3 linked regions of the Homo sapiens genome follow. The gene in region 3 interacts genetically with the main gene of each other region. Each region holds a gene or a part of one and is shown on either strand. Other genes may lie near its edges. The genes, in order: HAPSTR1, SRRM3 and SRRM2.

The links.
Region 1: changes in SRRM2 (region 3) and HAPSTR1 together harm fitness more than expected from each alone (negative genetic interaction), as found in Homo sapiens cells (one large-scale study listed by BioGRID).
Region 2: changes in SRRM2 (region 3) and SRRM3 together harm fitness more than expected from each alone (negative genetic interaction), as found in Homo sapiens cells (one study listed by BioGRID).

The regions. Positions count from the first base shown.
Region 1 is NC_000016.10:9,094,629-9,098,277, forward strand, and holds part of HAPSTR1 (HUWE1-associated protein modifying stress responses 1), read left to right. Parts: intron 1-3,649. UniProt on the Homo sapiens protein: Acts as a central player within a network of stress response pathways promoting cellular adaptability. The E3 ligase HUWE1 assists HAPSTR1 in controlling stress signaling and in turn, HUWE1 feeds back to promote the degradation of HAPSTR1.
Region 2 is NC_000007.14:76,208,266-76,211,914, reverse strand, and holds part of SRRM3 (serine/arginine repetitive matrix protein 3), read right to left. Parts: intron 1-3,649.
Region 3 is NC_000016.10:2,759,047-2,762,695, forward strand, and holds part of SRRM2 (serine/arginine repetitive matrix protein 2), read left to right. Parts: coding exon 1-1; intron 2-93; coding exon 94-126; intron 127-305; coding exon 306-356; intron 357-522; coding exon 523-615; intron 616-700; coding exon of another isoform or gene 701-743; exon of another isoform or gene 744-1,076; intron 1,077-1,254; coding exon 1,255-1,453; intron 1,454-2,514; coding exon 2,515-3,649. UniProt on the Homo sapiens protein: Required for pre-mRNA splicing as component of the spliceosome. As a component of the minor spliceosome, involved in the splicing of U12-type introns in pre-mRNAs.

The sequences.
Region 1 (3,649 bases), 6.3 Mb from region 3:
GTTCCAGTTACTATGATAAGGTTCACCCATCGAGTTCGCATTGCAGGTGTGCATAGTTCAGTGCCTTTTGATTGGCTAGTATTACTCTATGGTGTGGCAGTACCATGGTTTATTCTTTTGCTTTTGTTGGTATTGCTTTGTGCTTGAAGGGGAAGGCAACACATTTTTAGTGTTTTTATGTGCCAGGTTCTTAGCCTAGGCCGTATAAAATGGGATTGTCCTCTGGCTTTGGTCCTGTTGGGTTCTTGTAGAATGTGTCCCTTTAGGACTAACCTAGCAGTTTTCGTTAGTGCTAACTTTTCGTGTAAGAAGATGGGTTCAGCAGTTGAACTCTGAAATAATCCTTAATTTGATTACTTCATTTAAAAATGTTTACAATTTGTTTGTTTTCCTGCTCAGAAAACTTAAGGAGGAACATTAATTTTATTTTTAGAAAACATCACATATGATTCTTGGATTATTGTAAATGCTAGATTGTTAGTCTGAACTAGTTTTATTTTGTACCTTGTTTCTGTACAGTGAAAACACATCCCTTGCCTAATAGAAATGGTAAGTTGTGTCTTGTGGAATTTGATAGTGCAACGTTTTCTTATTTGATTCAAGGAGTGTGTGGATAATACTCTGGATAGCCTCACACTTTTTCTTTTTCAGGGTGTGGTCTTTAGAGAACAGGCATACAGCTGTAGGAATAATTGGTTACCTTAAATAGAACCAATAAAATTAGCAAGGTGGTGTCACAAGTGCATGCAGCAGTAAGTAGTACTAAATTTAAATGATATTGGTTATAGTTCTGATTAAATATTTAAATATAATTTAAGGGGGGAAAAATTTGGTGGATACTTCTAAGTGGGCAGCAGGCAGCATTCCTGTATTTTGTATAATATCTGACAAGGTAAAAATGGCTTATTGTGCAGCCTGGGGACAATTTGGCACTCCTACCAGCTTCTTGATAACTACCAAGAAGTTCATTAGGTGTTTATCTCAATCCTGACCTTCATTAAGAAGGTCAGGATTGAGATTAAAAACCCAGCAGAGGGTCGCTTTTAGTTGTCAGAGGGCTTTTGAAAAGTTGAAAATTGAGTTAATTGGTTTGGTTGGAATGTGGCTAGAAGGATTTGGAAGATAATGTAAATGTAAGTTGAACTTCAGCAAGGACAGAATTCAATAAAATGGAGTGGGTGGTTACCTCTACTGTAAATAGTAGGGTCAGACTTGTCTTCCCCTTTCCAAAAAAGGAAGGAAGCCAAAATACTGACTGCTGGTTTTTGATTTGATAAATGCAAAGAGGATGGTGTTTCTTCAATATTCAGTAGTATCCTTAGATCAGTATATTTTTTGATTCCTGGAACTAAAGAAGGGGAGTAAAAAATCATTTTAATCTGGCTAGGGTTGATGTTTACCCAGTGTCATTGTGAGTTGGAGTCTACTGCCACATTGCCTGAGTTCAGATCTTGGCTCTGTTACTTCTTACCTTTATGGTCCTGGAGACAGTGAAGCCAGGTGTTAATTCACCATTGTGCTCCTTGACTTAATTAACTTAAATAGGGATAACTACCACAGATTCTAGTACAAGCTCTTAGCTTTGTGCCTGGCATAGTGAGTGCTCTGGCATTCATTGTGTTGGTGGTCAAGTTTTAAGTATTTTTTGGATTTTTCTCAATGTGGGCAGTGCTTAAAATGAAGGGAAGTAATAATAGTTTATTTTCTGTCTTTTTAAAAATTTTTTTTGTGTTGAAATAAACTCTGGTGTGTATTTCCTTCTTCATCTTCTTTCCCTAATTGGAGTAAATGTAAGTAGAATTGACAGGTGGGAAAAATAGTCTGATGCCCTTAAGTCCTCACTTTTGATACATCTTGATGCCAAGCCCTCTTTATATGTCTCACTTCAGTGTGGCCATTTTGGACTCGTACACTAAAGGAGAACTGAGCATAACTGTAAATGTGTGGGCCAAGTGGCAGGTGACTTAGAAACAAATGGCCAGAAATCATATTCTACCTGGAGACTGGTGGAGCTGGTTTGTGACTCACTTGGCTGCAAAAAATTATTACTGAGTTTGAGACTTTGTTCAAAATACCTTAGTGTGGATTACAGTGAGAAACCCTAAGCATTAAATTTCTATTTAACTTTTCATGCCTGTAATCCCAGCACTTTGGGAGGCTGAGGCAGGAGGATTGCTTGGGGCAATATAGTGAGATCCCGTGTCTTAAAATTTTTTTTTAATGAAAAAATTGTAGCTTTGTCAGAAGCAGTAGCCTCAGTTATACATAATACTTATTTTTTATAATAGACTGCTTTTTTTGTGTGTAGCTCTTATTTTTTTTCCTTTTTTGGAGACGAAGTCTCGCTCTTGTCCCCCAGGCTGGAGTGCAATGGCGTGATCTCGGCTCACTGCAACCGCCTCCCTGGTTCAAGCGATTCTCCTGCCTCAGCCTCCCCAGTAGCTGGGATTACAGGCGCCTGCCACCACACCAGGCTACTTTTTGTATGTTTAGTAGAGACGGGGTTTCACCATGTTGGCCAGGCTGGTCTTGAACTCCTGACCTCAGGTGATCCGCCCGCCTTGGCCTCCCATAATGGTGGGATTACAGGCGTGAGCCACCGCGCCTGGCTCTTTTTTTTTTTTTTTCTTTTGAGACAGGGTCTCATTCTGTCACCCAGGTGGGAGTGCAGTGGTGCTGTCTCAGCTCACTGTAACCTCCACCTTCCAGGCTCAAGTGATCCTCCCACCTCAGCCACTGAGTAGCTGGGACCACAGGCACCCATCACCATGCCCAGCTAAGTTTTTGTATTTTTGGTAGAGATGAGGTTTTGCCATGTTGCCCAGGCTGGTCTCCTGAGCTCAGGCGATCCACCTGCCTCAGCCTGCCAAAGTGCCGGGATTATAACTGTGAGCCACCATACCCAGCCTGTGTGTAGTTTTTCTGTGAAAGAATATGTTGGTTGCAAGTATGAGAAAACACAAGTTGGGCTGGCTTTAGCTGTATGGCCATGTATTGGCTCCTCTGACTTAAAAGGCCACAGTAGGATTGACTTAATTGAGCAGCCCAGGCTCCCCTGCTCTGTTCTCCCCTGTGTGCACTCGCACACTTTGTTATCAGGCTGGCTTCATTATGTTGGCAGAATGGCTTGTGGCTCACATCTTAGAGCCACTCAGTAAAGCTTAGAAGAGCCTAAAAATGACTTCTGTCATCTCTTGGCCATAACGGGGTCACTTGCTTACCCACAACCATTAATAGGGGTACATAGGGTTATGCACATGAGTTGAGAGCTAAGCCACAACCCCTTGAGCAAATGTGGAGGGAGCTTCTCTCGAAACATGGTTGCTATCTAAACAAAAACCTGGAGTGCTTTTAGGAAGGGGAGGACAAGGATTGGATGCCAGGCAGGCAACAAACAGTGGTTATTAAGATGCTCCCCCAGGGCTGGGGCGGGGGCTCACGCCTGTAATCCTAGCACTTTGGGAGGCTGAGGCGGAAGGATCATTTGAGGTCGGGAGTTTGAGACCAGCCTGACCAACATGGAGAGAAACCGTATCTCTACTAAAAATAAAAGATTAACTGGGCATTGTGGTGCATGCCTGTAATCCCAGCTAACTCGGAAGGCTGAGGCAGAAGAATTGCTTGAACCTGGGAGGCGGAGGTTGTGGTG
Region 2 (3,649 bases), on a different chromosome or scaffold from region 3:
TGAGCCGTGATTGCGCCACTGCACTCCAGCCTGGACAAGAGAGTGAGACCTAGTCTCTAATAATAATAATAATAATAATAATAATAATAATAATAATAGTAGTAATAGTAATAATAATAAAATTCAGGCCCCACACTCAGATTTGGAATCAGTCGTTTTGGGTGGGTCCTGGGAATCTGCTTCTCATGGACTGTTCTAGAAATACTGGGGCAGGTACCTCTGCACCTAGGGACCATGGCTGCAGCGGTTCTGGGTGTCCAGATTGGGCTGAGCCGCAGAGAGGAGAGGAAAGGCCCCAGGCCATATGACCTATGTCCTGAAAACACACCGCAGGCCCCCTGTTGTCTCCATCTGTCCAAATCAAAACCGCTCTTCAGGGTGACCTTCCTGGAACAGCTCTGGCCATGCACTTACCTACTGGGAACATTCCTGGCGTTCTCTGCTGTCTACGGAAAAAAGGCTAGGCTGCCTCACCTGGCAATAATTCCCCCCCCGCCCCCCAACAGTGAGGCCCCTGTCTCCAACCCGGGCTTTCGCTCCTCCGCCCGGACCCTGGCACTCCAGCCATGCTGTTCCCCAAGCACCTGGTGCTCTTACCTCCTCCTCTCTGCTCCTGCCAAAATCACCCTGCCTCCTTGTGCCTCTGCCTGGCAAACCTGCATTCATTCTACGAGCTCCATCTGTGAGGCCGGCTCAAAAGTTAACCAAAGTCAACCAGGTCAGGGAGTCCTTCCCCACACCGGTGTCCCGGTAGCCCTTGGAATGCTGCTACATAACCCCTAGTCCATCTAAAAAACATTCTTGGCTGGGCGCAGTGGCTCACGCCTGTAATCCCAGCACTTTGGGAGGCTGAGGTGGGCAGATTACAAGGTCAGGAGTTCGAGACCAGCCTACCCAATATGTTGAAACCCTGTCTCTACTAAAAATACACACACACAAAAAAAATTAGCCGGGTGTAGTGGCAGGTGCCTGTGGTCCCAGCTACTCGGGAGGCTGAGGCAGGAGAATCGCTTGAACCTGGGAGGCAGAGGTTGCAGTGAGCGGAGATTGCCCCACTGCACTCCAGCCTGGGCAACAGTGTGAGACTCCATCTCAAAAAAAAAAAATTATCCAGGGCTGCTGGGGCTCAAGGACTGTCCTGCTCCTCCCATTTTTTTAGAGACGGGATCTCACTATGTTGCCCAGGCTGGAGTGCAGGGGCTATTTACAGGTGTGATCATAGTGCACTACCCGCCCCCCCAAGACTCCTGGACTCAAGCAATCCTCATGTCCCAGCCTCCCAAGTATCTAGGACCACAGGTGTGTGCCACCGTGCCCAACTCCTGCTTCTCCTCTCTTTACCTAATGCCTAGCACAGGGCTTGGGGATGACAATGTGTTCATGCAGCTTTTAAGTGGGGAAGAGCTACTGCTGTGTGATGAATGAATGAATGAATCAAGGACGATCTCTGCTTTCTGATGTCTGAGGAGCAGGAGAGAGAAGAAGACAGCATTTGAGAGGCAGGGAAGAGAGAGGTTTCTGGGGAGAATGACATATGTGTCAGATAGGGCCTGACAGAGAGGGAAGACAGGACTTCCCCCAGGAAGGACCCACTGAATGTTCCAGCTTTCCTGCCTCCCCAGAAGCCCCCTCTGGGGCCCTGATGAGAGAAGGGGTGGCTTGGAGGTTCTGCCAGTCTTGAAGCCCACTCCTCTAACCTGGGGTGCTCTGTCTGATACCAAGGGCTGTGCCATCAGCTGGAGATTGGTGTAGGGGGCAGGTTGCCCAGCTCCCAGAGGCATGTCTCTGGTATCCTGTACCCCCTTTCAGTGGTACCATCACCTCCTGCCCACATGAATAGGCAGACAGACACCTCCCTGACCTCTCTGCTCTAGGTCTCTTCCTTTCCCTCTCTGCCTCCTACCCTATTGCAGGCAGAGGGGCCTTCCTGAAGTGCAAACCTGAGCATTTGATGGCATTGCTCCAGAGCTTATAATTGTCATTGCTTTCTGAATAAATTTCCAGCTCTTGACTGGGTGCAGCGGCTCATGCCTGTAATCTCAGCACTTTGAGAGCCCGAGATGGGAGGATTGCTTGAGGCCAGGCATTTGAGACCAGCCTGGGCAACATAGCAAAACCCCATCTCTAAAAAAACATTAAAAAATTAGTTGGGTGTGGTGGCACATGCCTGTCGTCCCAGCCACTTGGAAGGCTGAGGCAAGAGAATATCTTGAGCCCAGGAGTTGGAGGCTGCAGTGAGCTATGATCTCACTATTGCACTCCAGCCTAGCAGATGGTGAGACCCTGTATCAAAAAAAAAAAAAAAAAAAATTCCAACTCTTCAAGGCCAACCACTCCCACTGGGCTGCCTATTATCAGCCCTGCCCTCTGTCCTGTCCTATGACCACATTAGGTAACTATCCCTTGAATCCAGCCAGGAGGTTTCATACCTCTGTGCCATTGCCCATGATGCTCTCTGGAGTGCCAATCCTCTGCCCTCTCTGTCTGGCACCTCCCCTGTCATTCTTTGAGGCCCAACTGAAATGTCACCTCTCCCAGAAGCCTCCTCTGATGCTCCATATCACTTTGGACGACTTAGTTCTAGCAGAACCTCAGTGGATCATCAGTTTTCATGACTGCCTTCCTTTCCACTGGTCCAGAAGCTCCTCAAGGTCAGAGGCAGAGTCTGATTCACCTCTGTGTCCTCGGGCCTCGTGCTGTGCCCAGAAAACAGGAGGCCCTCATTAAATGTCGATTGTATAGTCTAACCCCCTCAAAGGGTGACCTCCACCTAGCAGAAGTGCACTGGATTTTACCCTTCCTGGGGTGCTTTTTTGGAGACAGGATCTTGCTCTGTCACCCAGGCTGGAGTATAGTGGTGCAATCATAGCTCGTTGCAGCCTTGACTTTCTGGGCTCAAGTGATCCTCTTGCCTCAGCCTCCTGAGTAGCTGGGTCTACAGGTGCACACCACCATGCTCGGCTAATGTTTTCTTTTTCTTTCTTCCTTCCTTCCTTTCTCCCTCTCTCCCTCCCTCCCTCCCTTCCTCCCTTCCTCCCTTCCTTCCTTTCTTCTTTCTTTTTTCTTTCTTTTTTTTTTCAGGGTCTTCTTGCTCTACACTCACTCAGGCTGGAGTGCAGTGGCGTGATCTCAGCTCACTGCAATTTCCACCTCCCGGATTCAAGTGATTCTCGTGCCTCAGCCTCCTGAGTAGCTGGGATTACAGTCACCCTCCACCAGGCCTGGCTAATTTTTGTATTTTTAGTGGAGATGGGGTTTCTCCATGATGGCCAGGCTGGTCTCGAACTCCTGATTTCAAGTGATCTGCCCACCTCAGCCTCCCAAACTGCTGGGATTACAGGCGTGAGCCACCGTGCCTGGCTTAATTTTTTCTTTTTCTTTCTTTCTTCTTCTTCTTCTTTTTTTTTTTGTAGAGATAGGGTCTTATTATGTTGCCCAGATTGGTCTTCAACTCCTGGGCTCAAGTGATCCTCCCACCTCAGCCTCCCAAAGTTCTGGGATTACAGGCATGAGCCACCATACCTGGCTCCGGGGTGCTTTCCAACCCAGGACCTGAGTCACTTCTAGTATCATCTGGAGGCAAGTATCATTATATCCATTTTACAGAAGAGAAAAAGGGTTGGAGGTTGGAGGCCAGCGGAAATCAGGG
Region 3 (3,649 bases):
GGTATGAGGTGGGAATACTTGAATGACTGGAGAAGGTTTGCTGAATTCAGGCAGAGGTGTTTCTTATGTTTTTTCTTCTCTTTTTTCCAACAGGTCAGAATCTGAGTCCAAGAAACGTAAGCATAGGTAAGAGCTCTTTAACTCATAGGGGGCGCAGTGGCATGTGGAGTGGTGATTTTTTTTTCTTGGAGTGAAGCTCAATTCCTTGATCTTCCTTGTGTCAACACTCCCTCTTTCCATTTCACTTTTGGTTTTATTTCCTTTTTTAAAGAAGTTACTTTTAACAACCTTTCCTTATTTCCCAGGTCTCCCACTCCAAAGAGCAAACGTAAATCTAAGGACAAAAAGCGAAAGCGGTGAGTGAATTTGTGGGGAATTTGCTTAGGAAGTAAGTGAACGCCACCTTAGTGGGAGGGAGTTGAATGAGTTATGTCCCTGACTGGTAAAGGGTTGAGGGATACGTGAGGAGAATCCAGGGCAGGTACAGCAGTACCCTGAGCTGTGGTGGTGGTCTTCCTTCAGGTCTCGAAGTACAACACCAGCCCCCAAGAGCCGCCGGGCCCACCGTTCAACTTCTGCTGACTCTGCTTCCTCCTCCGATACTTCCCGCAGTCGGTAAGGGGTAGTCCAGGAGGAAGGGAGGGAGAGGGAATGATGGGTTAATTAATTTAATATTTATTGAGCGCCCACGGTGTGCTAGGCGCTGCACAGACCATTCGGAAGACACGGTCCCTGCCCTCTAGGAGCTGACAGGCTAAAGCAACAGGATGGACAGACATATACATTTCCCCTTCTCTTTTTTTTTTTGTTTTTGTTTATTTGTTATTTTTGTTTCGTTCTGATGTATATGGACTGCCAGAATAGGGGGGGTGGTGGTTTGTTCGTGGTGTCTGGGGGAGGAAGGAATCCTTACCCTGGCTTCCTTAATCGGGGAAGGCTTCCTGAAGGAGGTGGGCTCAGAGGTGAGTTGTGAATGAAGCGGGTAGGGAGTGGGCTGGGTGGATGGTTTGGGGATGTTTGGGGGAGGTGAGTAAAGGGGTAGAGGGAGAACGCTCTTTGGGATTGTGTTGGGAAAAGAAGAACCAAAGTGGACTGTACTTGCATTTCAGTGAATGATTTGAGTTGTGCGACTAAAGGCTTTTTGGAAGAGGGTTGTCCAGTTAGGAAAGGTGGATGGGAGTTGGGGAGGGGGTTTTCTGTTCTCCCTTTGAGCTGATTTCCTTCCTCTCCCACGTCCTCAATTAACTCCTGCAGGTCTCGAAGTGCTGCAGCTAAAACTCATACAACTGCCTTGGCTGGGCGAAGTCCTTCCCCTGCTTCAGGGCGACGCGGGGAGGGAGATGCGCCTTTCAGTGAACCAGGTACTACCAGCACACAACGGCCTAGTAGCCCGGAGACTGCTACGAAACAGCCTAGCAGCCCTTATGAAGACAAAGATAAAGACAAGAAGGAGGTATGTTCCTGAGTTGGTGATGTTCATTGGATTGCAAATGTATAGATTTAGGATAGACATGTGATGTGAAAGGGAGAGGTAATAACTTATTAAAATAAATAAATTCAGTTTTTTTTCCTGCATTTCTCTCCTAGTTCTCTTACTGCATCTGCAGAACTTTTAGTGTTGTTACTAGACTGAATTGTGAACCCTTTAGAATCAAATCTCACTGGATGTTAGGTTTTATATTGTGTCTTGTTTATACATAGATAGAACTGGAACAAACGTTGTATCTTATCTGTGTACTCCGTATGATGCCTCTAGTTTCTTCTCTTTTTTCATTAAATGCTGGTCATGTCTCACCAAAACTTTTTAATCCATTGCGTTGCCACCAATAGTTTGAATGAAACACTGAAATAGTCTTCAGTAGTCTTCTGTTCCAATTTTAAGCATTAATCATTTCCTCTTGCTTTAGTGATTACAGTCTGAATTCTTGGCCTCTATCATCAATTTTCCATGTCATCCAGGGTTACCTTTCCAAATTACAAGTTGGTTGACCTCAGAAACTTAACTACTTCCTTATTGCTTTTGAATTATATTTAAGGCTTTTAATAGTCTGGTCTTTTTCTCATTTCCTGTACTCTACCCATCCTGGGCTGCTTTTTTACTCTTCACACAAATCATGTTCTCACATCTTTATTCATGCTGTTTCTTTTCGTTTAATAGAGTTATTCTTCAAAGGTGAAGTTGCCATTCGCTTTAGGAAACTGCTTATTTTTCCATTTAAAGATAGTTTTTTTCCATTCTTATAACATTTTGTAGTGGTATTTGTTAAATGTAGTAGTGCATTAGTTATTTGCATTTTGTGTTTCTTTTAGTTTTAAGATTCTGGCTATCCATATATTCATATGTTTTCACCACTGTGCTTTATATGATTCCTTGTTATTGAATGAAAGTGATCGCTTGTGGTCAGAGGGTGTGTAAAAGAAAAGTTATCATTGGAAAGGGTGTTGGGATCTTAGGGGTGATGTGAAGTTTTGGCGTTTATGAATCCCTATCCCTGCTCTCTCTTCCACTCTTAGAAATCTGCAACTCGACCTAGCCCCTCTCCGGAAAGGAGCAGCACAGGCCCAGAACCACCTGCTCCCACTCCGCTCCTTGCTGAGCGACATGGCGGCTCCCCACAACCCCTTGCAACCACCCCCTTAAGCCAGGAGCCAGTGAACCCCCCATCTGAGGCCTCTCCAACTCGGGACCGTTCACCACCTAAGTCTCCCGAGAAACTTCCCCAGTCTTCTTCCTCAGAGAGCAGCCCACCATCCCCTCAACCTACCAAAGTTTCTCGGCATGCCAGCTCTTCCCCAGAAAGTCCTAAACCTGCTCCAGCTCCAGGGTCCCACCGAGAGATTTCTTCTTCTCCCACATCTAAGAATCGCTCACATGGCCGAGCAAAACGGGATAAATCACATTCTCATACCCCCTCCCGTAGGATGGGGAGGTCCCGTAGCCCTGCCACCGCTAAGAGAGGGCGATCTCGGTCTCGAACCCCTACCAAGAGAGGTCATTCTCGATCCCGATCTCCCCAGTGGCGTAGGTCCAGGTCTGCACAGAGGTGGGGAAGATCTAGAAGCCCCCAGCGACGTGGCCGCTCTAGGTCTCCTCAGCGACCAGGCTGGTCTAGGAGCAGAAATACCCAGAGAAGAGGCAGGTCTAGGTCAGCAAGGCGAGGGAGGTCCCACTCTAGATCCCCAGCCACTAGGGGTAGATCTCGTTCTAGAACACCAGCCCGCCGGGGCAGGTCCCGCTCTAGAACACCTGCCAGGCGGAGATCACGATCCAGAACTCCCACCAGGCGTAGGTCTCGGTCTAGAACACCAGCCCGGAGGGGCAGGTCTCGGTCTAGAACACCTGCTAGGCGCAGATCTAGGACCCGATCACCAGTACGACGCAGGTCTCGTAGTAGATCACCAGCCAGGAGAAGTGGCAGGTCACGCTCTAGAACCCCAGCTAGACGTGGCCGCTCACGCTCCAGAACCCCAGCCAGACGTGGCCGCTCACGCTCTAGAACCCCAGCTAGACGCAGTGGTCGCTCACGCTCCAGAACACCAGCCAGGAGAGGGAGGTCTCGGTCTAGGACACCAAGACGAGGAAGATCCCGCAGTAGAAGCTTAGTTAGACGTGGAAGATCTCACTCTAGAACACCTCAAAGAAGAGGCA